Linked DNA regions of Homo sapiens. The protein of the gene in region 2 purifies or fractionates together with the protein of the main gene of each other region. This does not show direct contact. Each region holds a gene or a part of one and is shown on either strand. Other genes may lie near its edges.

Evidence for each region.
Region 1: the proteins of BRME1 (region 2) and F11 purify together in Homo sapiens (affinity purification with mass spectrometry; one large-scale study listed by BioGRID and IntAct). This does not show direct contact.

What each region holds. Positions count from the first base shown.
Region 1 is NC_000004.12:186,269,189-186,272,688, forward strand, and holds part of F11 (coagulation factor XI isoform 1 preproprotein), read left to right. Parts: intron 1-2,420; coding exon 2,421-2,583; intron 2,584-3,500. UniProt on the Homo sapiens protein: Factor XI triggers the middle phase of the intrinsic pathway of blood coagulation by activating factor IX.
Region 2 is NC_000019.10:13,896,118-13,899,617, reverse strand, and holds part of BRME1 (break repair meiotic recombinase recruitment factor 1), read left to right. Parts: intron 1-3,500. UniProt on the Homo sapiens protein: Meiotic recombination factor component of recombination bridges involved in meiotic double-strand break repair.

The DNA of each region.
Region 1 (3,500 bases), on a different chromosome or scaffold from region 2:
CCAGGAATGAAAAGTTGATTTAACATTCAAAAATCAATAGATGTGTGACTTCGGGGTACATACCGAAAAAAAAGAAGGGAAAGCAGGAACTCACACAGATATACTTGTACACCCATCTCATAGCAGCATTATTCACACTAACCCAAAGGTGGAAGCAGCCCATGTGTTTATCAACAGGTGACTGGATAAAGTGTGGTACATACATACAAAGGAATATTACTCAACCCTAAAAAGAAAGGAAATTCTGACACATGCTATGACATGGATGAACCTTGAGGACATTACGCTAAGTGAAATAAGCCAGTCACAAAAGAACAAATACTGTGGGATCTCACTGATAGGAGGTACTTAGGGTAGTCAATTTCATCAAGACGGAAATTAGAACAGAGGTTGCCAGGGGCCGAGGGGCCAGGGGAAGGGCTGAGGGTTGGTGTTTAATGGGCACAGAGCATCAGCTGGCGAAGTTGAAAAGTTCTGGAGGTGGATGGTGCTGATGGTTGCACAGCAATGTAAATACCCTTAGTGCCACAGAACTGTACACTCAAGATGGCTACATGGCACATGGTATGCTATCTGTCATAATAAAAAATAAAAATAATTTTAAATGTTAATATGTGCCGAAAAATGCTTGCTAAAATTCTATTAATGATCAAAACTTTAAATAAACTGGAAATGGAAGAGAACTTTCATCAGCTATTAAACGATATTTTAAACAAAAGCAAACAAAAATCCAAACCAAAAATCTTCAAGAAACATAATACGTAATAGCGGAATATTGAAAGCTTTCCCAAGGGATTGAGAATAGGACAAGAATACTTCCCATTATTTCCATTTACTCTTGACTGGAGGTACTCGTTGGTGCGGTAAGGAAGGGAAATAAAAGGAAAACGATTAGGAGGAACATAAGCTCTCGTTTTTCACAGATGATGTGATTGAGTACCTAGAAAAATCCAAAATTAACCATCACATAAATTATTTGAGCCAATTAATTAAATGAGTAAGAAGTCTCGATACAACGTCAATATACAACAGCAAGCACTTGCTCGTTCGCAAAAGCAGATGAACTAGTTTTTACTGACACTAGAAGCAGCATGTGTTCCATGTGTTCCACATCCATGCACTCAAACAACCTTGACGTGAAATATTTTTTAAAAAATTGTATCTGTACTCAACGTGTGCAGAGTTTTTTTCCAAAATTGTTTTCCAAAAATTTTTAAATGTTTATATGTTTAGGGGGTGTAAGTGCAGATTTCTTACATACATATATTATGCGGCGGTGAAGTGCCGGCTTTTGGTGTACCCATCACCCAAGTAGTGAACACAGCCTCCAACAGGTAATTTTTCAACGCTCACCCCACTCCCATCCTCCCATCTAGTGGCATATTGAAAATCAATTTGTCTTGTAAAATTAAATAATCCAATTAGGAGGGGGATATATTCTAAGGAAATTAGTGCATGATGCACACACACACACACACACAGAACACGTGTGTGCGCATGTGCACATGAGAGAGAGTGAGAGAGAAACTGGGTCTTGCTCTGTCGCCCAGGCTGGATTGCAGTGGTAAAATCACAGCTCACTGCAGCCTCAAACTCCCAGGCTCAGGAGATCCTCCTACCTCAGCCTCCCGAGTAGCTGGGATTACAGGTGGAAACAACCATGCCCAGCTAGTATTTTTTTTTTTTTTTGTATTTTTTATAGAGACAGGGTCTTGCCATGTTGCCCAGGCTGGTCTTGAACTCCTCAGCTCAAGCAATCTACCTACCTTAGCCTCCCAAAGTGCTGGGATTACACGCATGAGCCACTGCGCCCACTCCGCATTATTAAATATAGAACATTTATTTGATTCATCAGTTAATATTCTTCTTAAAAGTACTATTTTAATGTAGCAAGATTGCTTTCCACCAAAAGGTGGGGTTTCCACGGTGGGGTTTCCAAATTATTCTCAATGGGGTGAGGATGTGTGTTATCACACCCCCGAGCCATCAGATGCTGTCAGAAAGTGATCACTCTGAAGTCTTTGTTTCAAATAAGCACAGGGTTTGGATAAAGAGACGCAATTAGGAAAGGAAAAAGCAGAAGGCTCGTTCCAGACCTGGATGAGATCCTAAAAAGCAGCAGCTTTTGCCAGTAAAGATCCTTGAAATGATTCAATTACCCTCAAAGCACTCCTTGTCTCCAAGACAATCACTCATAAGCACAATTCCATTGAAGCCAACGTACCATTTTGTGATTTTCGTTTCCACCTGAGGCTGTTCATTCAATAAACTCACATAAAAGTGTTTATTGCCTTGATTTCCAAATTCAGGCGTATTTCCTGGTAAGTAGAGCTACTTGCCTTGCCTTTATGAGATTACCACCTAACTAGATGTATGCCCAGTAAAATCCAACATAACGCATGCCATGTACTACATCACAGAATGTGTGACTCAGTTGTTGAAGGACACCTGCTTTGAAGGAGGGGACATTACTACGGTCTTCACACCAAGCGCCAAGTACTGCCAGGTAGTCTGCACTTACCACCCAAGATGTTTACTCTTCACTTTCACGGCGGAATCACCATCTGAGGATCCCACCCGATGGTAAATGCTTATGTTTCTACATCGAGGAGACAGATTTTTAAAGGGAGATTGCTATTCTTAACACATTTCCATCTAACATTTTATAAAATTTAACATTAACAACTGGAAGATAAATTGTCTTTCAGTTGAAATATTGTTACAGAAAGAAGTGATGGTGTTTACGCAATTTAGAAAAGAATAAATATGCCTCCAAGTGTAGACTTTCCAGCCTCTCCTATAGTCTCATATTAATGGTATGTTTCTTCTGTTTGTCTCAATTTTTACACTTCTTAAACATTTCACACTTTGCTTTTCTATCGATTATTAATTTTTGTCGTGCTTCTCAACAAACTGGAACTTCTCCCAACTATTTTATTAGAAAAAAATAAAATATTTAAAAAGAAAATTTGAAAAAAAGTACAGTACAGTGATCCCCCTGCCACCACCAAAACCGCAATGTTTGCTATATTTGTACAGCAATATACAATATACAATACCTATATTTGTATACATGTTTAACCGTTTGAAATAATTTTAAAACATGACACTTTACCCCTAAATACTTCAGCATGCACTATCCTACACAAAAGACATACGAAATTTAACAAGAATTCCTTTATATTATTTCAGTTTTCCCTCAAATATAATTTATAGTAATTAACCAGAATCTTACCAAGAGTCACTCACTGCATTGGGTGGTTTGTCAGGTTTAAAACATTTTAAACAGTCCACCAACCATTTGTATTCCCATCCTGAGCTTGAAAATTTAATAATAAGCCTTTCTGTAGAATTAAGTTTTCAACATCTTTATTATTGCTACATTCACAGGCATTTATGTAGCACCCAGAACTTATAAAATTTACTATTCCAGAACCTAGAGCAGGGATTGGCAAATGTCTTCTTAATAACGCAGAGTAAATATGTTAGGCTTTGTGGGC
Region 2 (3,500 bases):
AGATCAAAGGGTGCATTGCACTCAGTTCCTGCCCTGGAGATCCTCCAGCTGTAGTCAGAGGACAAAGGAAAATGCTTCTCTCAGCGAGAGCTAAGCAAATACACAGCAGTGGGATAAAGTTCTAAACGGGCACTCCCGAACTGTAACTGACAGAATTACAAGCAACTTACCGTGCGCCATGGCTCACACCTGCATTCCCAGCACTTTGGGAGGCCAAGGCAGACAGATCACTTGAGATCAGGAGTTCAAAACCAGTGTGGCCAACGTGGTGAAAACCCGTCTCTACTGAAAATACAAAAAAATTAACCAGGCATGGTGGCTTGCACCTGTAGTCGCAGCCAATCAGGAGGCTGAGGCAGGAGAATTGCTTGAACCCAGGAGGCAGAGGTTACAGTGAGCTGAGATCATGCCACTGTACTCTAGCCTGGGCAACAGAGCGAGAGTCCATCTCAAAAAAAAAAAAAAAGAAGAAGAAGAAGAATTAGAAGCAATTACAGGAAGATTGCTGTGGTTTAGTGGAGGGCAAACAGCTGAATGGGGACTGATGCAGACCCTAGCAATTGGCGTCGAGGAAAGAGAGACTCATTCAGTAGGTTTACTTCACGATGTGTAAGTGTGTAATGTAGAGCTGAGGTTGGAAAGAGTCCATCTGGGGTTTGGATAGTGTTATTCTTTTTTTTTTTTTTTTTTTTTTGAGATGGAGTTTCACTCTTGTTGCCCAGGCTGGAGTGCAATGACGCGATATCGGCTCACTGCAACCTCCGCCTCCCGGGTTCAAGCGATTCTCCTGCCTCAGCCTCCTGAGTAGCTGAGATTACAGGCATGAGCCACCATGCCCGGCTAATTTTGTATTTTTAGTAGAGACAGGGTTTCTCCATGTTGGTCAGGCTGGTCTTAAACTCCCGACCTCAGGGGATCCGCCCGCCTCAGCCTCCCAAAGTGCTGGGATTACAGGCATGAACCACTGCGCCTGGTCCTGGATAGTGTTATTCTTTAGTGTTTTTTTTAGAGATAGGATCTAGCTCTGTTGCTGAGGCCAGAGTGCAGTGGCACAATCACGGCTTGCTGCAGCTTCAACCTCCAGGGCTCAAGCAATCCTCCTGCCTCAGCCTCCTGAGTAGCTGAGACTACAGGTGCATGCCACCACCCTCAGCTAATTTTTAAATGTTTTATAGAGGTGGGATCTCACTGTGTTACCCAAGTGAGATCCTGGACTCAAGTGATCCTACCCCCTCAGCCTCCTGAGTAGCTGGGACTGCAGGTGTGCACCACCACACCTGGCTGTTGGTTTGTCTTTTTGTTCTGCCTGCCTTGGCAGAAATCTACTACATAGTAGGCATTCAGTAAATGCTCAAGTATTCTTAAGTGTGCTGGTTCTGGAGTTGGACGGGGTGCCAGCCTTGGTTCCTGGGCCTCTGTGTGCCTTAACGTTTTCACCTCTCTGGGAACTTGGGGCCCTTGGGTGTCAATTCTCGCATCTTTCCTTTCCTTTTAATTTAATTTAATTATTTATTTTTTTGAGATGGAATCTCACTCCCTTGCCCAGGCTGGAGTGCAGTGGCGCCATCTTGGCTCATTGCAACCTCAGCCCCCCGGATTCAAGCGATTCTCCTGCCTCAGCCTCCCAAGTAGCTGGGATTACAGGTGCCCACCACCATGCCCAGCTAACTTTTGCATTTTTAGTAGAGATGGGGTTTTGCCATATTGCCCTTTTATTTATTTATTTTAATTTAAATGTTTAATTTAAATGTTTTTTTGAGACAGGCTCTAGTTCTGTTGCCCAGGCTGGAGTGCAGTGGCACAGTCTGGACTCATTGCAATCTCTTCCTCTGGGCTCAAGTCATCCTCCCCCTTCAGCCTCCCAAGTATGTGGGACTGCAGGCATGCACCACCATGTTTGGCTAATTTTCGTACTTTTTAGACAGGGTTTCGCCATGTTGCCCAGGCTGGTCTTGAACTGCTGAGCTTAAGCAATCCACCTGCCTCGGCCTCCCAAAGTCCTGGGATTACAGGCTGGCATCTTTCCTTGCTGGTGGCAAAGGCCAATATTTTAATCATGGACAAAGATAATATTGAATTGCTCAAGGTACTTCTGTAAGGCAGGCATAACAGCAGCACCCTGCCTTGAGCTTTTATCTTAACACACACAAGTTCTTAGGACAGCATCTGGTGTGGAACTCACTAGAGTCAACCCTTATCATTTGTTCACTGAATGCATGATTAGGTTGGGGCCAGGCTTGGGGAAGTCTTACAAGCCAGCCACTATTGAAAGTTTTGATGTGGCTGGGCACGGTGGCTCATGTCTGTAATCCCAGCACTTTGGGAGGCCGAGGCGGGCGGATCATGAGGTCAAGAGATCGAGACCATCCTGGCCAACATGGTGAAACCCTGTCTCTACTAAAAATACAAAAATTAGCTGGGTGTGGTGGTGCGTGCCTGTGGTCTCAGCTACTCAGGAGGCTGAGGCAGGAGAATCACTTGAACCCGGGAGGCAGAGGTTGCGGTGAGCAGAGATCGTGCCATTGCACTCCAGCCTGGTGACAGAGCGAGACTCTGTCTCAAAAAAAAAAAAAAAAAGTTTCGATGTAAGGGAGTTTTCTTAATTCAAAAGATAGATTCTGGCGAGGCAAAGTGGTTCATGCCTGTAATTCCAGCACTTTGGGAGGCCGAGACAAGAGGATCACTTGAGCGCCAGAGTTCACGACCAGCCTGGGCAACATATGAGACCCTGTCTCAACAAAACAAAAGCAAAAGAAAACTTAGCCAGGCATGGTGGCACACACCTTTTGTCCCAGCTACTTGAGTGGCCTGAGGTGGGAGGATGGCTTGAGCCTATGAGGTCAAGACTGCAGTGATCCACAGTTGCACCACCTCACTCTAGCCTGGGAGACAAAGCCAGACCCTGTCTTAAAAAAAGAAAAAATATATATATAGTATATATAATACATAAATACATATATGTAAATACGTATGTATAAATACATATGTATGTATAAATACATATGTATAAATATATATATTTACATATTTGGCTGAGGCTGAATCCTGAGGTGGCGTGGCCTGGCTTTAGATCACATGGAACAACCTGGCAATATAATGGGATATATAATATATATAGTATATATTTAATAAATATATATCATATATAAATATATAATATAATACAAGGATATAATGTTTATAATATATTAATATATCATAAATATATAATTTAAATAATATATTTTATAATTATAAATATGCAATATGTAAATACATTATAATTATATATTTTATATGTATGTATATATTAAATATGAATATGTATGTATTTTATATATGATATATAATATATATTAATTTTTTTTTGAGACAGAGTCTCGCTCTGTCAACCAGGCTGGAGTGCAGTAGCGCAATCTCAGCTCACTGCAACTTCCGCCTACCAGGTTCAAGCGATTCTCCTGCCTCAGCCTCCCAAGTAGCTGGGACTATAGGTGGGTGCCACCATGCCCGGCTAATTT